4 linked regions of the Homo sapiens genome follow. The protein of the gene in region 3 interacts with the protein of the main gene of each other region in a pairwise test. Each region holds a gene or a part of one and is shown on either strand. Other genes may lie near its edges.

Region 1 (3,217 bases), on a different chromosome or scaffold from region 3:
CTCAGGGCAGGGGCTGTGTGTGTTCTGGATGTGTATCCCCAAGTCTAGCAGAGTGTGCATAGATAGGGGTTCAATAAATGGATATTGGCCAGGCACAGTGGCTCACGCCTGTAATCCCAGCACTTTGGGAGCCTGGCCAACATGGTGAAAACCCGTCTCTACTAAAAATACAAAAATTAGCTGGGTGTGCTGGTGCACGCCTGTAATCCCAGCTACTCGGGAGGCTGAGGCAGGAGAATCGCTTGAACCCAGGAGGGTTGCAAGTTGCAGTGAGCCAAGATCGTGCCACTGCACTTCAGCCTGGGCGATAGAGCGAGACTGTGTCTCAAGAAAAAAAAAAAAAGGATATTGAATGAATGAAGGCATGAATTCTAAGGATCAAAAGTGAAGCTTTAAAAATGTTAGGCTGGGCTGTGGCATTTTGGGGGCTCACCAAGGCCAAGAACCATATCTTCTTTGAGTCCTGATAGCTAGCTAACAAGGTGGCACTCCTTTCAAAATATGTGAATAAATTCAAGATGGCAAAGTGACGTCAAGCTGTTTAGTTATGGTCGCATCCCACAGCCTGTGAACATCTGCTCAGTGAAGGGGGCAGGGCCGTGGGCCTCAGGGGCCAGGCACTGAAGGAAATACAAGCAGGCTTAGGAGGGTGTGTTTGTCTGTGGTGTGTCTGAAAACGCCAGTGCCCTCCTGGGCCAGGGCACCAAGATCCACTTAAAACACTGCGGGTGAGACATTAGATAGACAATGAGGACACCAAATCCAAGAGGTGTTTAGTGTAATGAGTGTTCAGATGGGTGGGGCAGGGTGGGGTTCCCCCCATCTGACCCTCTAGGGCTCTGGGGTGACTCATTCTTCCTTGGGCTCAGAGGTGGAGCTGATATTTGTTCCTCCAGTTGAGCCCTGCTCCCCCTGGCCCTTGGCGTTCTCAGTGTCTCCAGACACTAGAGCCACGTTCCTCAGATAATTGATGTTGAAGCAGTTGACCTGTTCATCCCCAGGACTCAGGTAACAGCAGAGGGCAGGGTCTCGCCAGATGTTACGTCGGGGACCACACAGATCATTGATGAAGGTTAATTTCTGATGAATGAGAAAAGTAAAACAGATGATGGGGTGGGGAGGTGGTCCAAGGACAGATGTAGATACTTGGGTGCCAAAGTCCCCCTTTCATCAGCTTCTACTGCTCTCTCCCTCGTTCCCCTCCTGGGGCCCAGAGAGAGTACAAGACTGCCTTGCACAGCTGGATTCCTTGTGACTGACAAATGTGTACATCTGGAAATGCCAGAAGCTTGTGGCCCGGAGAAGGCATAATAGGAACTTAGAGATGGGGAGCAGGCCAGGTCAGAGTGAAGACTTTTCTGGAACCAAGAAAAAAACACCTCCCCCACTAGTCATTATAACCAAAGGCTGGTTTGAGGTACTAAAGAGAAGGGGTGGCCTGCAGTTCTAGCTCTTTCCCTCCCCTCCCCTGCATTCCTCTGGAGACTAGACTCCACACACTCACCTCCTCCTCTGCACAGCAGGCCTGTTCTGGAAATGGCAGGTCACAGCAGCGGGCAGTCATGTTGTGGATCAGCCCAGGAATATGTTTACTATGTTGGTGTGAAAGGGGCAGGGGTTAGGGTCTTTGGGCATCTTCTGGCATCAGATGGGGTTGGGATATCATGATTTTGCTTTTCCCAAAGGTGTCCCAAAAGGAAGTTTTCGGGAAAGGAAGAGAGTGGGGAAGGACTAGGCAACTTACTGCTTGGTGAGAACTCTTTGGTTTCCACAGAGGTGGCCCATGAGGTTGGGGGTGACTCGACCGATGTCAATGGTCAAGATGTCCCGGTCATAGTTGGGGTAAGGAGCCCGACGGGCAAAGCACTCATCCCGAGTAGGGCTGGGAGGGTGGCGGCAACACAAGTGGTGGTGGGTCTTCACAGCATACTCCCGGTCACAGTATTTGTCAAGGGTATCCTCCCACTGTGGACCAGAGAGAGGGAAGTCAGAAGCTGGACACTTGGCCCCTTCTCTCCTGACCATCGACTTCCCTTATCGTCCCTGGCAACTAGATGAGGGGCTCCCAGCCCGAGAGGCCCAAAGGGAATGGCAAAAAAGTAGAGGGTTAGGAGGCAACTGTTGATGTGTGGGCTTGGGAAGGTGGACGGGTGGAAGCCTGGATGAGGTTCCAAGCTGGTGCCGGGAGATGAGCTGGAACAGTGGATGGAGAAGGTCAGGTGAGGCCAGAGCTGGACGGATGGATGGATGGTAGACAGATGCGTGTGTGGATCATGAGTGGAGGAGGCCAGAAGTGTAGTACGAAGCTCAAGATGAACAAACTCAGGTGACAAACACAATGGATGGACGGACAGCCACAAGCAGATGAACGGGTGGACGCACTCACAGCAGGGGGGGTACATGGATGGATGGACTGGCAGGATCAGAGGTCGAAGATGGGCAGGCAGGCAAACAGGCTCTCAGGGAGGCTGGGACGCCCACTTACGGCCTTCCATGTACAGGTGTGATTGTTCCCCTGGCGGCAGCAGCGCTGGAACTCCCTCTCCAGCTGGATCAGTGCCAGCAGCTCCCTTTGTAGGGGGTCAGTAGCTGGCAGGTTGCGTGGCACAGAGCGGAAGCGCCTCAGGTGGCAGATGTTCTTGATATTGTCCAATGTGGGCACCCCAGGAGGGAAAGGCAGCTCAAGACCCGAGGAAATATCAGGCTGATGGCTGGGGCAGGCCCGGAGCTGGTAGTGTGGCTGGGGAGCTTCCTCCTGGAAGCAGGAGAACCGAGCCTCCCCCTGCCGCGTGCAGCACCAGTGGGGTCGGGTCTTGACCGAGAACTCGGCCTCACAGAATCGGCTCATTGCTTCCTCCCACTAGAGCAAGAGGGGAGGATCAGCCCACTTTCCACATTCCTGCCTTCCTCCCAGGCTCCAGGAAAGGACACTGGGCAGGCAGATAAAGAAGAGACAGTGGTTGTCCTCTGCTCCCCTGGCACATTGGGGAGGCCCAGGGTAGGGCCAGTGAACGGGACCTGAGGTTCCTCCAGACCCAGGCCTAGTGCTCTAACCCTTAAAACACACATACTGTCTGGGGTTAAAGGACACCCCCCGGCATCAAGAACCCAACCTTACCACAAGTTTGGCACACTCTAGGCGGTTTGTGTGGCTGCGGCAGTGGCAGCAGCGGGAATATCCAATCTCCAGGAAATTGAGGGTCTCACCCTGGCGAGT
Region 2 (7,036 bases), on a different chromosome or scaffold from region 3:
TAACAAGTTTTTCCTTCCTTCCTTCTTTCTTTCTCTCTCTTTGTCCAATTATCAATACAATACAATTGGCTTTATTAACTGTTAGAGAATTTGCCAGCTTTCCTGGATGGTTCATACGGCACTCTGAGAATACTGGGCGTTTCTTCCATTACCCTTACAAGGAGGTTGTCGATGTAGTCCTCGAGTTCCCGGATGTGGGTGTCTTTCCTCCTAAGGAGTTCTTTGTGTTTCACCAGCTCCTGTAGAACCTCTTCATAGGTCAGACTACGATACCCTGCAGTGGCATCAAAGGGGTTGCTGTCCTAGAACAGGATAAAGACTGTCACTTTCATAGATATAACATCTGGGACAAACATTAAGAATTACCTGGAACTTCGACTTTTTGTTTTTCAAACCCTGATGAAGTTTTTCGCTAGCCTTGCTTAAAGTGAATGTGACAGTTCACAAATTGGCTAGCCAGTCCTGAGGCAAGAACTAGGGCAGATGCACCAAAGTTTTGACTATAACTCTAAATCCTAAAACCCTTTCTAACATTGTGGGCAATTTCCTAATATCTGAGACTGGTTATATCATGTAAGATTACATTAAGAGATGAAATATTCTATAATAAATACAACTAAAATAGATGAAAACTAAAGATTTCTAAAAGTTAACTCAGAGGAACTGTAAGAAGTAACTGAAAACTATACACTTGGACTTGTGTCCTTATGAAACTGCTTCCACTGAACTGTGATTTAATGTTATATGTTTGGCTTCTTAGTGAAGATGGTTACAGCAAAAATCTTTTCTAATTTGCTATGAAAATGGAAGCACTCGGAATTAAATCAAAGATTATCCTTACAGGAAGCCCCATGTGAGTAACTTCTGTTTTAATTTAGAAACAGGCAGAACTTTTCCTCCCCTGAGTAACTGGTCTATTTCTTTCTCCTATAATAATATCTAATTTATCTTCTTTCCCTTTTTGACCCTGGTTATCAGGAAACTCAAGAGTTCAACCATATTAATACTACGGTTAGTATATTTGCATTCTCTCCCATTTCATCTATTTACTTAACTTTATTCTATTGACAAAAATTCTTTTTAGGCAAAAGCATAAATATAACCAAAAATCTTTTTTAAAAGACACTTATTAATTCACTGTTATTACAAAGCATTCTAATATTAATGTTATATCAAAAGTGAAAGAAAAATATTTCTCAGGAATTTAATCAAGGCCCTGTAACATAATCTTTTATTTATAGTGTATAGCATTAAGAGTTTTCATTCTGTAAAACATAATGCCCAATTACAACTAAGCAATTTTTTATTCTTTTTAAATCATAGTTCTCTCATTAAGCCCAACAATTTAAAATAATTTTCATCACTATCTTTTAAAACATTTCCATTTGGCTTTAAGGAAACTTAACTAAAATATTGAGGAAATTGGTTTTCTTGCTGTTAAGGAATACTATCTAATCTATTCAGTGGAGGATGGGGAATGGGGACTGGTGAATGCAGAATGACCCCCACCCCCAATAAGAATTAAACTGTCCTTCCCTGTTTTCAGGATCTACTTTAATAGTGCTATGTATTTGGGGGTGTTCATGAGAAAAGCCAAAGTTTAACTTTTCACTGGCCCTCACCACTTCCCCAGCCTCTCAGCCCAAGGAACCAGGACTTTACCAGACCAGAGAAAGAGAAGCTAGAGTACAGATACCAATTTGATGCTTGGGTCATTGAAGCACACCCACTTCTCCAGGATAAGTGAAAACATTCAGGACTGAAAAACTTTTCCAATTTCATAGAATCTCTCAGGCTTTGTGGAGAAGATACAGCTTGCGCTAGGCCTTCAAGAGTTTGCAGGCAGAAATGCGTAATGGGGCATTTCAAGCAGTGAACTCTGCTTGTTCAAAGAAGGAAACAAGGCTCAAGGCATAGTGGCCAACAGGTAATCCAATAACAGGTACTCTGTAGAGCATGGCTGGAAAATACTGTACAGGACAGCGAGCAGACAGGGGCCGAAATGGAAGGTTTGAAATAGACCACCAAGAATGCTGAATGGTAGTATAAAGAATTTTTAGACTTTTGCTATGGAAAATAGGAAGCCACTGAAGGTTTCTAAACAGAGAAAGGATATGATTAAAGCTATGTTCCAGGAAAAGTAAAATGGCAACAGTGGAATCATTTGGAGGGGCTAAGATTAGGTATAGGGCTATTGAAATATGAAAGACCAGAGTTAGCAAGAATGAATAGAGAGGATATTAAAGGGAAGTGAGTTTAAATTCTATAAAATATGTCTAAAACAACTTAGTTTATTTTAGCATTAGAAACTGGAAACAGATGTAAGTTTCAGTCATATTTCCTTCATCCTTAAAAACATTTCAAATATTGTTCTAAAACCATTAAAGGACAATTCTAGAGATAAGTGTTGTTTTACTTCTCCCTCCTCTCTCAGATCAATTAATCTTTTATAAGTCTACACACATGCGCACACACACACACACACTCTCATGCACGTAGTTACTAGTTTAATTGGTCATAATATATAGTTTGGAGATACATAAGTATTAATTACATTCTTATAAAAGATTATGTTAAGCCGTTTTCTACAGTAAAGAGAAGACATAGTGTAGAGTTCGGTATACTTTTGAAATTTCTTAAAAATAAGCTAAAGTGTCTTACTTCAACTCGAGTAATTCTGCATAAATTTGAGAGAGAAAGCAACTTGGGTCTCACTTTCCTTATCTGATAGATGAGATGTTCTCCATGGTCCCTTTCAACTCTAAAATTGTCTGGTATACCAAGTGATTTTTCTAAACCCCACTTTAAAAACTAATAAACTCTAACTAATGTGATTTCACTTTTCTAATAAAACATTTACTGAGAAATTCATGTTCTTGTGAGAATTGCAGGGATTAATGAAAGGAAGCTAAATGGGATTCATTACTGATTAGTTGACTGCTTTATGCTTTTTCTTTATTTAACATAATAAAAGCATCTATTCAAGTCTCTCTAATCTTAATAAAATTACACATATATAAACTGATTTCTCCAAACTAATTAAGCTATGAAATAGTTAAAATAAAAGTGCACTGTTATATTTAACACTATTACCAGTTAATGTAGTTAAAAATTTTTTGTAACATTTCTCTAAAGACACTGAAGATGAAAAACGTTTCAAAAATTTGTGTTTTGATATAAATTAAAGCCATGATATAAATTAATAGTTTAATCTTTCAAAATAATCAATTATTATTTCAGACTACTGGTCATACTTTATAGCCATACTCTAGAATACACAGATATGTTATTTGGATTATTTTTTTTTTCCTTACAACAATCTAACACTAATGTGTAGACAGATTTCCTGGAAATACATTTCTGGCCTTTTCAATAAATTTTCCGTTTGTCCTTTTATGTGAAAATTTCACCTCAAATTTTAGCATCAAGTTTCTAGGCAGGAAAACATCTTAGAAACATATGTACTATGAATTATATTCTGGAAAAGAATATAAAATAATTAAAAACAGTTTCATGCTGAGTTCCAGATTTTATCTGATATTTGAAAACAATGTAAACCTTCTAATTTTAGGCATGAGATTCTTAAATTGACTGATATACTCCACATATATATATATATTTCTGTTTGTTGATATAACTCCAAATAAAATAATGATTAAGTAATATAAACAATAGAAAATTAAAACATATGCTCATTACAAAAATTATTTTTTTAGAGAGGAAAACTCTCAGGTAAATATAAAAATTATTTTTTCGAAAGATTATTCTTGCAAAAACTTGCAAAATTCATAACTCTCTAAACTGGCAAAGACCAAATGCAACTTACAATGGTTACTCCAAAGTGCTCAATATTTTTTCTTACAGTACTCCATACAGACAGCACTTATGTTTTTAAGATGTTTTCTTATTTTGAAATTTAATGTAAATTTTTCTTCTCTCTTCCCCTTTTACAACCAACCTTTTCTCATTTCTACTCCACCTCTGTTAAAAATGTCCATATGCAGACATAGAAGATGTGGACTGGTAAGAAAATATTAGAATTACTACATGAAGTTTTCTAACCCAGAATTTTAAATAATACAGTTTTGCATAAGATTTTGAGAACTGCTAGTGATCTATTTTTGCTTTACACAGTCTAGCCTTTTAAACTAGGAAATGTACATTTTTTACAATATTTAAATTTAAACAAAAGCAAATTATCAAGACTCAAAATAACTGAAGATTTAAAGAAAGGTTGTCCTGGTAACCAAATATTGGTGGGGTACTAACTGACATCCAAGGCAACTAGAGGAGAGAGAGAAAAAAAAATGAAGGCTTGGCATTCTCTGATCATCTCATTATTGTTCTAATGAGGAACTTTGCTCTGGGAATATCATCTCAGCTACTTTCACATCTTTTGTCCTACTCCCTTCATCTCCCTTTCAGTTCTTAATTAGGCCTTAAAGAGCTCACACTGCCCTTTCAACTGGCTACTGCTCCTGTTTAAACACTGTGCTTTCACAGACAGGTGTTGGCACTAGCATATAAGACATACAAACTTAATTACAAAATACTATGTCCAGAGGGAGAAAAAATAACTTGGTGGATGGCTATTATTGGAGAACTTAATGTAAATTACTTCAAACATCTTATAATCTTCAACATAAAAATTGTTCGAATGCTTTTCTTCAATCATGATCAGTACGAAGATGCGCTTCCTCCTCTTAATTGTATCTTGCAGTAAATTAACAACACCTAGTAATCCTTTAACTGTCATTTAGAATAGTTAGTATTCCAGAGAAAAATAATCACACATCAAGGATTCTTTTATCACCTTTAAATCCTTTAACTAAAACAATTTTCACATTTTATTTCTTTAAAGAATTCTAAGGATGCTTCTACAGCAATAAATTACAAGATTTGGAAAAGTACATTTACAAGCAATCGAAATTGTAATTAAGGTTACTTAATAAACAATAGCTACACATTAAATCGATTTTTTTGATGTTGCATTTTGTTTGAGATTAAGTAACCGCCTGATAGAATTCATTTTACTATCTGATCAAAGGCTGACTTCATATTTTCTCACATTTCTCGCCAGACTGCCATATTATAAAGACTTGAGAATTTATAAAACATCAAAACTTACGAATCGTTTAAATAAAACAGCAAAAACACAGTACAAAGTCCTGTGCTTCTGTAACAGTTTCCACAATTTTAAAGATAAACAACTGCATTTAGAATGGTTTAGAAAATAAACCCTAAACCCACCTTAGCTTCTTCTAGCCATGTCACATCCTAAAAAATAGTGATATGTGATATGGGATTGCCTAAAAAAATTCTTACTATACATCTGGATCGCACACATCAAGGACAGATGGTTGAAACAGCAACCACCAGTGTCTTGGAATAAAGCCTCTATTTCTGTTATTCAGTGAGAATTTAGTTTTCTACCAAGAACGTTTGCCCATATTTTGGCAAAGTAATTTATTCTCTACGTTTAATATAGTTAGAATTGATTGCAGATGCAATGGAACTCTGAACAGAGATTAAATACTGGACTTCAAATACTACAATAAAGTTCAGATTATCTGAATAATCCTTGCAAAATACGTGAGTTGATTTAGGTGGTCGCTACCAATCCTGTTAACATATTTGGTTTTGTTCTGACGAGAAAGATAAGTGTCCTAAAGTATTTGTTCTTTCAAATACTTTCCTGGTTATCTGGCTCTCCTGCCAGGATGCTTTTCTATTGTTGAATGTTAACAAGCAGCTTTATTCTTTCTTCAATCCTTGTCCCAACAACAACAAAAAATAGTCTTTTCTACGTGCTCTTATTTCATAACCACAAATTTGACCCTGACATACAGCTTGCATATTAATTTCAAAAGTCTGTAAACAAAATATGTATATTCTAAATTGGCTTCAATTATAACCAATTTTGCTTGAACTTTCATAGATCATACGAGTCACACCCTATTGTATATTAAAGGCAAAGATTGTATTTTACTTTCTTTCTTTCTCCTAAAATTACTACGCTAAGCTACAATTCTTAGGTAAGTGAGGCAGAAGGCAAGAAGACAAAGGCATTTTTAGAAATGTGTGCCAGAGAAAAAGACCAGCTTACTCTTTGACAACCCTCTAACCCCTTCAGCAACTTACCGGGATTTTCCTGAGGTCTTCATTGCTTGTTGGACTCATATGAAAACTAATAAAACACAAACAAATGTTAAAAGTGTCATAACTCATGTGGGAGGAAACATAAAAATAGAAAAATTTTAACCAACATTGTAATACAAATTTCTAAAGCCCTACATTATTCAGAGGAGTGAAATTTAATCCAAGAAGTAGAAAAAAATCCAGTATTTCCCCAACATTCTTAAAGCATCATTACAATTTCAAACTTTGAAGGAAAACTTTTTAGTTATCAGAACTGAAGAATGAAATAGGAAGTTTCTAAACAACTTTAAACATAGCACTTTTATCCAGCAAGATATTTTGCAAAACTAATTTGTGTGAGAGATTTCCCATTATATTTACACACAGTCACTCACCTTAGGCCCTCTGATATAAAACTAGGGAGAATTAAGTAAATTTAGGTTGGAAAGATTATAGAATAAAAGAGTTAAAGCAATCTGTTTAAAAATGCCATAAGTGTTAGAAAACTCAGCTTTCAAACATTACCCTATCAATAAGAATAAATTCAGAATTGTGGGAAACATTTCTCTCGTTAATGTGATTTCTAAGTAGCTAGTCTTGAAAATTTAAATACTGAAACGAATCAAAACAACACAGATTTCTCCCATGCAGAGAAGAAAACATCACAGCTGAATGCTATAACTATTTTCTTCTTTGAAACATGTCCATTAGATGGGACTGCAACCAAAAGACGCTAAACTTCAAAGCCATCTGATGAGTAAATATTTCATCGGTGCTATTCAAGTTTAATTTTTACCCAGCACTTAAAGGTATTAGCCTTTAAAACCTTCACAAAGCATTAGTGTCCTAAGAACCTTTTTATTCCATGCACAAAACAACAACTGTAAAATATGTATGT
Region 3 (7,001 bases):
GGTCTCATTATATTTCCTAGGCTGATCTCGATCTCCTGGCCTCAAGCGATCCTCCTGCCTCGGCCTCCCAGAGTGCTGGGATTATAGGCATGAGCCACCGCGCCCAGCCATGGAGCAGTCACATCTTTAAGATCACTGTGGAGTTGTTTATGCTTCATGAAGACCGTCAGATATCGGCTTAGTCTGTTTTTAATTTCTTGCGTTCATTAGGTGCATAAGCCCTGCCTCCAAGCATACATAATCCCAAACACCAACCTGGATAATTAAGTGTACAGGTAGTGAGTGAAAGAAGTGAGCCTAAGCAATAAGGAATTGACATCAAGCCAGTGCCTTGTACCTTCTAGGGAGAGCATGAGTCCCCGCCAGCTTTGCTGGCTGACCCCCATTCTGCAGGTGCTGATCCTGTTCTCAAGACCTTTGGTTGTAGCTGTTATTGACTGTCATACTTTTGATGCTCCCCTACGCTCCCAAGCAGCCACCGACCCAGGGTGAAGCTGAGATGAACTGGGGTGAGCCTCAGAGGTTCAAGAATCCAGAGAAGGGTTTTCAAATCTAATAGATAAGTGAAGAGCTATGAGCAAAAGTTCTCTCTAGCTCAGAGGTCACTCAGACATTCACAAGGTGAGAAGGATGTGGTCTGCCGTCACTGTGAGGGCACCCACAGCAGTCATTGTCAGCATCAGTCCAAACAGAAAAGGCAGCAAGAGGCAGACAGAGGGGCATCTCCAGGATGTTTGGCATCCTGAGGTCATACAGCTTCATTTTTTTGGTGAGCTGAATATCATGGCCATGAATGCGAGCAAATCTGCACTAACTTCCTTTTGCTTCTCCAAGAAATGGCCTAGAGAGGCTGCCTGCATTTCTTGGCTAGTGGCCCCTTCCTCTTCTTCAAAGACAGCGGCATGATATCTTCCAATATTTCTCCCTCTCTCCCTTTCTGTCTCTCCCTCTCTCTCACCCTCTCTGTGAATCTCTCATTCAGCCCCTCTCTCCCCTCTGCTTCTGTCATTTTGTCTCCTCCTTTTTCTGACCCTCCTGCCTCCCTTTTACGAGGATCTGATTACATTGGGCTGACCAAGATAATCGCCCAGCTCAAGATCCTTCATTTAACCACAGAATCCCTTCTGCCATGTATGGTAATGTATTCGTGGGTTCCGGGAATTGGAACAAGGATATCTTGGGGGGCATTTTCCCATCTCTCATACTCTGTTACAGATCAGCATCTGTGAGGGACTACACATCTTGCCAATGCAGAGATAACTCAGCACTCTGCATCCTCAGCATTCTCGGCTTAATCCTTTCCGTCCCAGATGAGATCATCCTGACAGCCGTCTTTCAGAACATTTCCTTTCTCGTGCTCCCTTCTGGTGGCTGGGGCCTGATGGACACAGCTCACCTCATCTTTCTGCTGTTTGTTTACTGCACTTGAGGGTTGCTGTACTGTTTACATTGTTAACAAATGCTAGGTTTGCTACAACCCCACATCAAGCAAGTCCGTTGGTGCCATTTTTCCAACAGCATGTGCTGAATTTATTTCTCTGATTTACATTTTGGTAATTATCACAGTATTTCTTTTTTTCTTCTTTTTTTTTTTTTTGAGGCAAAGTCTCGCTCTATTGCCCAGCCTGGAGCACAGTGGCACGACCTCAGCTCACTGCAACCTCTGCTTCCCAGGTTCAAGCAATTCTTCTGCCTCAGCCTCCCCAGTAGCTGGGATTACAGGCGTGCGCCACCACGCCCGGCTTATTTTTGTTATTTTTAGTAGAGACGAGGTTTTACCATGTAGGCCAGGCTGGTCTCAGACTCCTGGCCTAAAGTGATCCTCCTGCCTTGGCCTCCCTAAACCTTGTTTTTAAACAAGCGTGGCAGTTTGGATGGCACTTTGACCCTTCTTTGACCATGTATCACAGCACAGTGGCAGCTGGTGGTGGTGAGCTGCAGTTGTTGGAGGAAGTGCAGCAGAGCCATGCTGTGAGGCCTGGCCCACCCCCAAAACCGGGAGGTACCTGCAGGCGCTCTCATTCCATGTCAGCCTGGAAAGGGTGGGCTCCAGACCACTCAGCTCCATGCGCATTCTCATGGGACTAGGTGGCCAGTTGTGACAGTGGGGAAGTAATCGCACTCCCTGCAGAGGGACGTGGCCAAGGGAGGAGCAGAGAGCTGGGCTGGTGGAGCACGAGGGTGGCTGCAGGAAGTGCAGCAGTCAGCATGGAGTGGCCGCCAGAGAGCCAGGGCCACAGGTTGGGTGGGGAGAAGCAGGTCAGGGAGTCCCTGCAATGAGGGTTGGCTCTGAGAAGCCGCCTGGCAGGAGTGGAAGGGGCAGGTGGAGGACCCAGCAGGCCGGAGGACTGCCGCCTTGCGGGCTGGCCAGAGTGTCACAGCAGAGTCCCAAGGGGTGAGGACTCCTCAAAAAATTTTCCCCCTCAGTTGATATTTTTGGAGATATCCAGATTAGGTTCTTAAGATTGGCTGAGTAATGCATTTTGGGAAGGGGAACCAGTTGAATGGTTTCAGGAAGGTCTTTCATTCTCCACGTTTACTATGTACAGCCTTGGTTCATCTGCTGGGATTTTGAAGAGGCAGCCATAACTTTGATCAGTGTTTTTGAAGGGCTGAGTGACCCATGCAGGGTTCCAGGGTCTTCTCACCAGATGATGTTCATGGCTGAGTTTACTCTAGTTCCCCGTTGCAGGGTACAGGGAAGTGCTTGAGGCTGGGGCTGCGAGGCAGGGCTGGCACACGACACCCACCGCCACCGTGGGAACGGCACCTGCTGAGCCTTGATCCTCAGCTCTTTGTCCTCCGATTTCCGACAGAAACATCCTGGGCTCTACAGCCTCCAGCCCGTGGCTCCGCGATTACATCACTCCTCTGTCTTCTCTGTTACATTTCACACCCTTCTTTGATTACTGCTTATTATGTTGTGCGATTATGGTGGACACCACTGGCATTGCTGCTTGGGTTTCTAGTTCACAGTCCCTGTGCCTTTTCCGAGGCCTGGGGCCCACCCGCCGTGGAAGCAGCCTGGTTCGTAGGAATGGATTCAGCTGGAGTCGGCTGTGGACCTTTGTCTGTGTTCGCTGCCTCAGCCTGACTGCCATTGTCTTTGTCGATCTCCGGACTTATTTCTCCTTGAGCCACGGATACAGCTTTTTTCTGACTTTGCACCTCTGTGCGATACATGTATTGGGTTTTCAAAATGAAATGTGAGCTGAGCTTTCCTATGTTGGCGCATTCTCGTTTATGCTAAAGTGTTACTTTTTATTGGCTCCGATTTGAAAATTCAACTACCTGAACCTCGTGGGATCCCTTCGTCTGTAGGGAGCTTGAAGTTGATCTCCCCCCATCTGCATTCATGCCTGGAGAATATTGATTTTAGGGCTTATTCCTAAAGTCATTTCATGGGACACACCCTAGATCAAAACTTTCTTTTTTCACTTGATTATTATTAAACTTGTCATTATGGACATTTTCAAACGTCTCCAAAGGTAAAAAAAAAAAAATGATAACATGATCACTACCCATGTATCATTACCCAGGCTTGACAGTGAACATCTTTCTGCTGTTCCTGTACCCACTCTCCAATTTTTTGGTAGTACTTAATTTTGAATTATAAAAATGCCACATGCCAGCCGGGTGCGATGGCTCACACCTGTAATCCCAGTACTTTGGGAGGCCGAAGCAGGCAGATCACGAGGTCAGGAGATCGAGACCATCCTGGCTAACACAGTGAAACTCCGTCTCTACTAAAAATACAAAAAATTAGCTGAGTGTGGTAGCGGGCGCCTGTGGTCCCAGCTTCTCGGGAGGCTGAGGCAAGGAAGTGGCTTGAACCCGGGAGGCGGAGCTTGCAGACAGCAGAGATCGTGCCACTGCACTCCAGCCTGGGCGACAGAGCAAGACTCTGTCTCAAAAAAAAAAAAAAAAAAAAAAAAAAAGTGAGTGTATATGTAACTTGTCCACAAAAAGAATTATACATTTTGTACTAGAATATATTTTTATTGCATTTTGAGTGTTTTCTAAGTTAACACAAAGAGAACTACGTCGTTTTTAAGAAGTGGCTGGATAGCATTCCATCCTGTCAGGATATGGAAATGGTTTTCACAGTGATTAGTAGGCAGGTAGGTAGGTAGAGATTAGATAGACACACAGAAACATGGTCATGGAGCTATCCTCACGCCTGACTTTCCTGTGACAGTCAAAGTCCTATCACTGGTTGTGATGGGTGTGTCTTTGCCTGAACTAGGTCATGCTAAACTGACCTCTCCAGTGGCTGTACCAGTTTGTTCTTGGTAGTGTCTGAGAGATTCCATTCCGTCGCTTTGCCATCATTTGGATTGCTAGACTTTTTAATATTTGCCAGGTTGGTGTATCTCAAATAGGATCTCATTACTAGCATTAGCAGTTCCCTGACCAGGTCTCTGTTCACATGTTTCCAGACTGAGGTGGCCTTTCTGTAAATTGCCTAATTGTTTCTCTATAACCAAACACCTTTCTGATGTTTTTAAGTTATTTTTGATAACTCTGTCATTAATTCTGTGAGTTCTATCAGCAGTTTCACTGCATGCATCAGGTATGTGATACCATATGCCGGTAATGGTCATTTTGTCTTCTCCTCTTGTATCTTTTTTGTTTCCCCTCACAAGACAGAGTTTCACTCTTGTCACCCAGGCTGGAGTACAGTGGCGTGATCTCGGCTCACTGCAACCTCTGCCTCCTGGGTTCAAGCGATTCTCCTGCCTCAGCCTCCCGAGTAGCTGGGATTACAGGTGCCTGCCACCACGCCCAGCTAATTTTTGTATTTTTAGTAGAAACGAGGTTTCACCATGTTGGCCAGGCTGATTTTGAACTCCTGACCTCAGGTGATCCCCCCCAGCTTGGCCTCCCAAAGTGCTGGGATTACAGGCATGAGCCACTGTGCCTGGCCCTCCTCTCATGTCTTATTCAGAGCCTGATGGTGCGGTGCATGCTTCTAGAACAGTAGCGATGGGTGTGCCTCATGACCGTAATGGAGCTGCTGCTCGCTCCACCGTTAAACACCATGCTGACTTTGGCTGAGCTGTATTTTTTTCTTATCATGTTATGGAAATGTTTGTTTGTTTTTGTTTGGTTTGGTTTTTTTTTTTTTTTTTTTTTTTGAGACGGAGTCTCACTCTGTCACTCAGGCGATCTTGGCTCACTGCAACCTCTGCCTCCCGGGTATAAGCAATTCTCCTTGCCTTAGTCTCCCAAGTAGCTGGGATTACAGGCACCAGCCACCACGCCTGGCTAATTTTTGTATTTTTAGTAGAGATGGGGTTTAATCATGTTGGCTAGGCTGGTCTCGAACTACTGATGTCAAGTGATCCGCCCGCCTCAGCCTCCCAAACTGCTTTGATTACAGGTGTGAGCCAATGCGCCTGGCACCACCTCAGTCTTTACTTACTTCTGTCCCGTTGCCTGTGGTTCTGGAAGTCTGACTGGAAAGGGGTCTGTTCCTGACACCCCACCTCCTCTTCCCTCTCTCAGGTGCTGGCTCCTTTGGTTGTATTGGGGTAGGGAGGAAAGAGAAGGGAAAGGGTAGCTCACGCCTGTAATCCCAGCACTTTGAGAGGCCGAGGCAGGCAGATCACTTGAGGTCAGGAATTCGAGACCAGCCTGGCCAACATGACGAAATCCTGTCTCTACTAAAAATGCAAAAAAAAGTATCCAGGCGTGGTGGTGCGTGCCTGTAATCCCAGCTACTCAGGAGGCTGAAGCAGGAGAATCACTTGAACCCGGGAGGCAGAGGTTGCAGTGAGCAGAGCCTGTGCTACTGCACTCCAGCTGGGTGACAGAGTAAGGCTCTGTCTCAAAAAAAAAAAAAAAAGTTTCCCAGAGCCCATCTAGTAGGGCCACACGGTGATGGCATCTGTCTCTTGGCTCCTGTGTGGTCACCGGCCATGCCCTTCCCTGACCTCAGCTGCTAGCCCTCAGCACATGTGACTGTGACGTCGTGTGGCAGCTGCTGAGTCCTGAGATGTTTTTAATGGCTGTTTGATTCCCAGGTTCTTCACCTACCAACGAGGGGAGAGAGCTGTGGTTCTCCATCATTGGGGGAGTGGAAGGGAGCTCCCAGCGCAGCCGTGGCAGCCACCTTCCAGGAGCAGGGGCTGGAATGTCCTGTGGCCGCATCTCTCATGGACGCGGCTGAAACGTGTTTTCACAGGTGCTGTTTTCTGTTTTCCGTGTTCGTAACAGAAGGGAGGGGAAAGCGCAGCTACTGACAAGTAGAACACTGCTACTTTTTTTAAGGCAGTTTCTTGTTTTTTTAGACGGAATTAGTCCTTGGCTTCCCTCCCAGTCCCAGCCCTGCTTCCGGCTGCGAATGTCCCTGAGTCAACACCAATAGAGATTGCTTTGTGTATTTTGTAGGGTTCTCTGTTTTGAAGACAGAATTATGTTACAAATGTTTTTGTTGTAAATAAATAAAACACTTCCTTGTCCTTGCAAGATCCAGTATAAGTGAATTGCGTGGACTCAGCTAAGCTTCCAGAGTCCCCAGGTGGGCAGGGGGAGGCCATTTGCCAGTGGGGCTGGGGCTCAAGCTCTGGAGCCAGCGGTTCTGATTCACCTGATAACGAAACGCTGCACACCAGGCTTGGGGTTCCCTAAGCCCGCTCCCAGTGTGGGGAGCTGATGCCAGCAGCTTAATGGAAAGTTGAAGCTACTTCACCCTCCCATACCCCGACACCCCGGGATCCTTGTCCCACACAGCCCTGAGGCCACCTCACCCTCCTGCGCCCCGACACCCCGGGCTCCCTGCCCCACACGACCCTGAGGCCACCTCACCCTCCTGTACCCCGACACCCCGGGCCCCCTGCCCCACACAGCCCTGAGACCACCTCACCCTCCTGCACCCCGACACCCCGGGCTCCCTGCCCCACACAGGCCTGAGGCCATCTCACCCTCCTGCACCCCAACACCCCGGGCTCCCTGCCCCACACAGGCCTGATGCCACCTCACCCTCCTGCACCCCAACA
Region 4 (7,036 bases), on a different chromosome or scaffold from region 3:
CATGTTGGGCAATTTTGGAATCCCACAGAACCCTCTTCCCTGGGCCCTAAGGGAACCGGCATCGGGGTGTGCCCCTGTGTCCCAGGCAGGGGCGGGGCAGGGCTTGGGGGGTCACTGGGCCCCTCTCACCCTCTGTGTGCCCTCAGGGATCGGGCTGGCCCTGGCTGCGGCAGTGAGGGGCTATCGCTGCATCATCGTGATGCCAGAGAAGATGAGCTCCGAGAAGGTGGGTGGGCGTGGCCAGGGGCGGGGTCATAGGGCAGGGGATGAGGGTGCCTGGGCCAGGCGGAAGGTGCAGGCCACCGCTTTCCCTCCTGCAGGTGGACGTGCTGCGGGCACTGGGGGCTGAGATTGTGAGGACGCCCACCAATGCCAGGTTCGACTCCCCGGAGTCACACGTGGGGGTGGCCTGGCGGCTGAAGAACGAAATCCCCAATTCTCACATCCTAGACCAGGTGAGGCACCTGGGGCCTGGAGACAGGCATTCCCTAGGAGGGTCTCGGTCAGGGATGTGGGGGTGACTGAGGTGTCAGGGGTCAGCTCACGGGCTCTGCTCTCTTTCTATGCAGTACCGCAACGCCAGCAACCCCCTGGCTCACTACGACACCACCGCTGATGAGATCCTGCAGCAGTGTGATGGTGCGTCCCTCTGTCCATCTTGATTGCATTTATCCCTGGCTGCCTGGGAGTGTACACATCTCTTGCCCTCTCCTTGGTGAACTCCTATTCACCCTTCAGAACCCAGCTCAAATGTTCCCTCTGTGAAATGCTTTTCTAGAGCATTTCTCTAGAACAATTTCCTCCCTCCGTTGTGCCCTCTTGGCCTCCGCCTGTGGTTTACCTGTAATAGCAAACACAGGGCATGGCTGTATTTGTTTACCCAGCAATCTCTGCAGGTCTGCAGGGGCTCCTCCTGCAGATAATGCAGACAGCGAGTCTGTTCAGGGCCCAGGCTGGTGCTGGGCTCACAGCTTGGACTTCATTTGGGATCATGCCCTGACTCGGCATCAAATTCATCTGCAGAACAGAGCTGGTGACATCTGCGATGAGCTCACTCTCTGTTACAAGCATGAGGCCGGCTCCTTGGGCCCTTTTCCAGGGACTCGGTGCCAAGGCCTGTGGGGGTTGGTACTGAGGTTTTCCCAAGAGATCCCTTTAGAGATAAGTTGCCAAGAGGTTGGCGCCCTGGCTTCCTATTGGGAATCCGGTGTTGGCATGGGCTGGAGTACACCCTCAGTCCGTGCCCAGGAGCCGGGCTGTAAGGTCCAGGCATTTGGTTGTTTGGGCTTTATGTGTGAGAACTCTCTCATTTGGCAAAAACAGTCCTGTCTCAGCATGGGTGCCCAAGCTGCTCCGTCTCGCTGAGTCTTTCCCTGCTGTGACTTCTCCACCAGATGCCCGCGCTGGCGGCCAGCAGTGTGAGCGCCCAGCGAGTTTCTGCGCTGAAGCCTAAAAGACTGATTCCATTTCCTGTGTAAATTCAGTTAACTCACTCACACCACGCAAACATCCAACAGCCCACGGAGGTGGTTAATTCACAGCCTCCCTCTGCCCGCCCTCAGCGCCTGCACCCCCCGGACAGGGTCCTGTCTTTCTGCATCCAGCCAAATGGGGGTTTTAGGGGTCGAGTGTCACTGAGCAAAGACTGGGCTGGGGTGCCCCAGGCTGCCTGTTTCTGAGGCTTTCACAGACCAAGGGCAGCAACGAGGGCTGCTCCAACTGGAGAAGAAGTTTTTCTTTTGAACTTTTTGGTTACCCACCGTGGTTTGGGCTGAGTGTGTTTTCAATGATTATTACTATGAGTGATGGGCTGGCCAGGCAGGGACCCAAGAATGTTATCCGTCCACCAGGGAAGCTGGACATGCTGGTGGCTTCAGTGGGCACGGGCGGCACCATCACGGGCATTGCCAGGAAGCTGAAGGAGAAGTGTCCTGGATGCAGGGTGAGTGGTGTGGCCGGGCCGGAGAGGGGCAGTGCGGAGTGGCCCCGGCTTCTGAGCTGAAAGCTGTCATTCCTCACGGTCTGCTCAGCACGCTGTCTCCCGCGGTATTTCTGCGCTGCCTGGGAGGTGTTTGGGAAGACAAGGGTGCTTGACACATAAGGGACCAGCAGCTCGTGACCCGAAGGAGCTGGGGCTGGGTGCTCGCTCACCGGCCAGTGTCTTGGAGAACCTTCCTGCGCTGAGTGGGGGGTCGGAGTTCCAACTGGGGGCCTCTGAGGATCAGCCAGGAGCTCTAAGTCCTCTGGTCCTGAGTCTGCCCCTCAACTGGGGCTTGTGGGAGTTGGGAGAGGGTTCCTGGACTCGGGGTTAAGAGCAGGTCTGAGGACGGGTGCCTAGAAAGGTCCCGCTGATGAGACAAGGGCGTTCTCTCCCTGTTGCTTGCCCTTGAAAAAGACGTCACTGCCCAGCAATGCCCTTTGTCCCCAAAGGCTCTGCTGCTCCGCCGCAGGGTGGTCTGTCTGGACTGTCCTGGGGGCCCCGCTCCGAGAAGCACCCCGGGGAGGTCAGTTCCTCCCAGGCACCTGCCTTTACTTCTGAGCGCCCTGCACTGAACATTTAGGTCATTACCGCTTTAATACTTGGAGCCTGGGTTCTTGGGTTTCTCATCCTGCCTCTGAGGCTGGGAACAGGCCACCACCCACAGGCAGATCATTAACAGGCAGTTGTTAACGGCGGTATTGGCCACTCCCATAATAGAATATCGAGGCATGTCCAGGCGGGGCTTTTGCTGGCCTTGAGCCCTGAAGCCGCGCCCTCTGCAGATCATTGGGGTGGATCCCGAAGGGTCCATCCTCGCAGAGCCGGAGGAGCTGAACCAGACGGAGCAGACAACCTACGAGGTGGAAGGGATCGGCTACGACTTCATCCCCACGGTGCTGGACAGGACGGTAGGTCGAGTCCAGAGCCCGGCCACAGTGCCGGTGCAGCCTGTAACTCACCCTCACACTGGGGAGCCTGGCTGACCCTGGGCCCCAACCAGCTTCTCCACTGAAACAGAAGGGCAAGCCCCGCACGCATGGTGAGAAGCTGGTCTCGAAGGTCGAGACAAAGTAGACTGGGGGACGATGTCCGCACACGTGGCCTGACCTCACCAAGGGATGTAGCCCAGGTGGCACAGGCAGGGAGCAGGGAAAACGTGTGAAAATTAAGGCCCCGGAAAAGTCTGTTAAGAGCCAAAAAGCTGACTTTGGCCTGAGGGAGAGCAGAGACCGAAGGGCCGGTGTGGGTCACACGGATGCTCAGTGGGGCTGGCGGGCAGTTTTGCTGTCTGCAAAACGTGTTGGAACTGGAAAGTCTGCAGACGTGCCGATCCCAGGGGGAGAGGCTGGGGTGAGACCTCTGGGGTCCTACCGCCTAGACACGGGGTCCACCATGAGGCTGTTCACCCTCTTGGTCACGTGGGAGCGGCTCCCACGCTGACGGGCTGTGGTGGGGTCCTGCTCAGGTGGTGGACAAGTGGTTCAAGAGCAACGATGAGGAGGCGTTCACCTTTGCCCGCATGCTGATCGCGCAAGAGGGGCTGCTGTGCGGTGAGTGGGTGGCGGGCACGGGGGTATGGGGAAGGCAGAGATGGCTAGGGGGCACTGGGGATGGCTGGGGGCGCACCCTCAGTCAGCCACCGACCTGCATGTGTAAGACAGCAGTTCTGAGGAGTGTCACTGCGGCGGCCACGAGCCTCAGGTGTTGTCTGCCTGCCCAGTGTGGTCACCTGCTCAGGTGAGGGCAGGAGGCCATGGGGCGGGGCTTCGAGCTGCCTTCCAGAATGTGTTTCTAGAACAAGGCTGAAGCTCTCATGGCACTTATTGTTTCTAATCAAGTCCACCAGGGCCCCTGGGGCGGTGGCTCTGCATTGACGGGGCCCATGGCCGGGACTGGGTGCTGCGAGCACCCTGGAGCAGCTGGGGAGGGGACTGGAGCCTGAGGCTGTCCAGCTCGACCCCGCTCACCTTCCTCCTACCCCGTGCCCCTCTGCCCACCTGCTTGGGGGTGGACAGACCAGGTGGCCGCTGGCAATGCCACTGACTAGCCACACAGGCAGCAGAGGCCCTGTAGGGACCACAGTTGATCTAGACCTCTGGGGACTCGGAGAGCACACACCAGCTTCTAAAACGCAGGCAGGGACATGTGAGGTTTCTACATGTGCATTCCGTGTGTCATGTCACTTTGGGGGTGGTGACAGGGAAAGTGGAAGGAAACCAGCCCTCAGCATGGCCAAGTCCCCCGTTAGCTGAGCCCCAAACTAGAGATTGGAAGAAAGTCTTGATTGAAAAACCATTTCCCAGCCAGGCGCGTTGGCTCATGCCTATAATCCCAGCACTTTGGGAGGTCGAGGCGGGTGGATCACCTGAGGTCAGGAGTTCAAGACCAGCCTGGCCAACAGGGAGAAACCCCGTCTCTACTAAAAATACCAAAAAAAAAAAAAAAAGTAGCCGATGTAATGGTGCATGCCTGTAATCCCAGCTACTCGGGAGGCTGAGGCAAGAGAATTGCTTGAACCTGGGAGGTGGAGGTTGCAGTGAGCCGAGATCACGCCATTGCACTCCAGCCTGGGTGATAAGAGCAAAAACTCCATCTCAAAAAAAAAAAAAAGAAAAGAAAAGCATTTTCCAGATGAATCTGTCACGAAAGGTGACTTGGTGCCCATAATCGTTGGGCTCTCCCTGTCTCAGTCTCCCTGCTCCCCATGTTGGTGGAGAAACAAGCCCCTGCCTTTGGGGCTGGAAAGCAGGTCCATGGGCCCCGTTACAGAGGAGGGTGCCTCTCTTCCTGTGGGGGCTCCTACTGCAGACTTAGACCTTCCCGACTGCTGTGTGCACCCTCAAACTAAGCCCAGAGAAGACGCCTCTGACTCTGACTTCAGGGCTCCTAGGGACAGCTGGTGTCACTGTGAGCCTTGGTCTCTTGTTTATAAAGCAGAGCCCAGTGTGCAGTCAGGCAGCCTGCAGGCGTGGTGCTGGGGGCTCCGTCCTCGTAGCATCGCTGGCTCTAGGCTCAGGGCCAGGAGGTTTGCCAGGGGCCGCAGCCCCACTGCAGGCATTTCCCTGGCACCAGTGCCCACCCCAGCTCATTATGAAGCCCCGAGTGGACACAGAAACTCCATGGTGCACAAGGAAGAAGCCGATGCTCACGGAGAAGTGGGGTCCTCCCAGCCCCTCTCCCCGAGGCAACCCCTCTTGACGGATCCTTCGGAGTGTGTCTGACATGCTCCCATGCGTGCACGTGCACAATTCATGCATACGTGTGCACCCACGCACGCTCACCCTGGCGCGTCTGACTCGTGGCCCTCTCTGCAGGTGGCAGTGCTGGCAGCACGGTGGCGGTGGCCGTGAAGGCCGCGCAGGAGCTGCAGGAGGGCCAGCGCTGCGTGGTCATTCTGCCCGACTCAGTGCGGAACTACATGTAAGACACGGCTTCCCTCCCAGGTCCCTGCTCCTCTCCATCCTGCCACCCTTCCCTGGATGCCTCTCACGCCTCACCTGAGAACCGGCAGCCAGAACTGGGAGGGGAGGAGGCCAGCGGGGCCCTGTGAGCACCGCCTCCACTCTCCTGCCCACGTGCCCTCACGCTGTGGGGCTTCCCAGCCTCTTAATGCTGTGAAAATCAATGCACACTCGCAGTGACAGCCCTGACAGGAGGGGCATGAAAGACGGTGGCTCCCTCTCTGTCCCTCCTGTCCCTTCCTCTCTGGTGTCTGTCCCCCTCACTGCTCTGGGGTCCGTGAGCTCCAACGGGTAGCCCTGGCCACATGGACTGACGTCCTCTTGGGCCGGGCCCTGTGCCACCTCCTATCCACCCTGACTCCCTCTGCTGCTTCCCCCAAACTCCAGATTGGGACCGAGTGCTGCCCAGGTGGCCCCCTAGGACTTGCTGTGACTGTTTTGCCCAGAGGCCCCTCGGACAGTAACGCCACAGACCTCGCTGGTCACCGGGCAGCCAGGCTGAGACTGGCGCTGCTCTGCACCTGGTCTCCGGAGGCGGTACCAGGGCGGGTGTCTACAGACCCCCATGCCCTGTCCCCTGCACCTGCAGGGTTTCCTCCATGGCCTGCAAGCTGCAGCGGCTACACAGCTCCCGAGAGCTCAGCTGCCCTTGGAGGGCCAGGCCTGGCTGGTGGGTGCCCCCAGTTGGGTTCCCCAGTGTGGGGTGATTCACATCTGGTGCCCAGGGTCAAGATGCCCTGTGCAGGGCTCCTGCCCACCCCCGTCAGTGCAAGAACACCATCTCCCCACATACTTGGCCAGCCTGCCATGTGTACCTGTGCGTGTGAGTGTGTGAGGGGCAGAGAGCGAGCATGAGAGGACGTGTTTATCTGAGTGCCTGAGCGATGGCTGTGTGCATGCTCACACACGCTTGTTGGCCATGGGGGCGGGAAGTCCAGCCCCCAGGCTTCCCCCTGGGGCTTCCAGCCAGCACTTGGGGGTCTCTGCTGCACCAGTGAGGTCCAGGAGAGGGGCTGGGCAGGCAGTGCGTGCCACTCAGCAGGGGCGGGGGCCCGGTGGGGCCCTGCGGGGACTCGGTGACTCCCCCATCCCGCAGGACCAAGTTCCTGAGCGACAGGTGGATGCTGCAGAAGGGCTTTCTGAAGGAGGAGGACCTCACGGAGAAGAAGCCCTGGTAAGACCGCTCGGCCGGAGACCCGCTGCCTGTGCTGGCCCTGCCCAGTGTGACAGGCAGGAGAGCACTCCCCCGTGGCCTGTGCTGGCCCTGCCCAGTGTGACAGGCAGGAGAGCGGTCCCCGTGGCCTGTGCTGGCCCTGCCCAGTGTGACAGGCAGGAGAGCGGTCCCTGTGGCCTCCTGCTGAGGTGCTGCCGGCGGGGGTGCGAGAGCGTTTGTCCTTATCCTGATCCCCCCGACCTGCCCTCTTCCCTCAGGTGGTGGCACCTCCGTGTTCAGGAGCTGGGCCTGTCAGCCCCGCTGACCGTGCTCCCGACCATCACCTGTGGGCACACCATCGAGATCCTCCGGGAGAAGGGCTTCGACCAGGCGCCCGTGGTGGATGAGGCGGGGTCAGTCTCAGCCCCTGCTCAGAGCTCA

What was found.
Region 1: the proteins of FKBP6 (region 3) and ECM1 interact in binary tests that used the Homo sapiens proteins (3 or more experiments, as listed by UniProt).
Region 2: the proteins of FKBP6 (region 3) and RAB11FIP2 interact in binary tests that used the Homo sapiens proteins (3 or more experiments, as listed by UniProt).
Region 4: the proteins of FKBP6 (region 3) and CBS interact in binary tests that used the Homo sapiens proteins (3 or more experiments, as listed by UniProt).

What each region holds. Positions count from the first base shown.
Region 1 is NC_000001.11:150,511,100-150,514,316, reverse strand, and holds the end of ECM1 (extracellular matrix protein 1 isoform 1 precursor), read right to left. Parts: coding exon 3,119-3,217; intron 2,861-3,118; coding exon 2,486-2,860; intron 1,966-2,485; coding exon 1,745-1,965; intron 1,593-1,744; coding exon 1,505-1,592; intron 1,081-1,504; coding exon 850-1,080; 3' UTR 528-849; downstream 1-527. UniProt on the Homo sapiens protein: Involved in endochondral bone formation as negative regulator of bone mineralization. Stimulates the proliferation of endothelial cells and promotes angiogenesis. Inhibits MMP9 proteolytic activity.
Region 2 is NC_000010.11:118,008,924-118,015,959, forward strand, and holds part of RAB11FIP2 (rab11 family-interacting protein 2), read right to left. Parts: intron 6,188-7,036; coding exon 6,142-6,187; intron 303-6,141; coding exon 75-302; 3' UTR 1-74. UniProt on the Homo sapiens protein: A Rab11 effector binding preferentially phosphatidylinositol 3,4,5-trisphosphate (PtdInsP3) and phosphatidic acid (PA) and acting in the regulation of the transport of vesicles from the endosomal recycling compartment (ERC) to the plasma membrane.
Region 3 is NC_000007.14:73,352,155-73,359,155, forward strand, and holds the end of FKBP6 (inactive peptidyl-prolyl cis-trans isomerase FKBP6), read left to right. Parts: intron 1-6,026; 3' UTR 6,027-6,471; downstream 6,472-7,001. UniProt on the Homo sapiens protein: Has an essential role in spermatogenesis. It is required to repress transposable elements and prevent their mobilization, which is essential for the germline integrity.
Region 4 is NC_000021.9:43,058,806-43,065,841, reverse strand, and holds part of CBS (cystathionine beta-synthase), read left to right. Parts: intron 1-146; coding exon 147-226; intron 227-320; coding exon 321-455; intron 456-569; coding exon 570-639; intron 640-1,850; coding exon 1,851-1,942; intron 1,943-2,763; coding exon 2,764-2,889; intron 2,890-3,446; coding exon 3,447-3,531; intron 3,532-5,295; coding exon 5,296-5,401; intron 5,402-6,538; coding exon 6,539-6,616; intron 6,617-6,873; coding exon 6,874-7,008; intron 7,009-7,036. UniProt on the Homo sapiens protein: Hydro-lyase catalyzing the first step of the transsulfuration pathway, where the hydroxyl group of L-serine is displaced by L-homocysteine in a beta-replacement reaction to form L-cystathionine, the precursor of L-cysteine.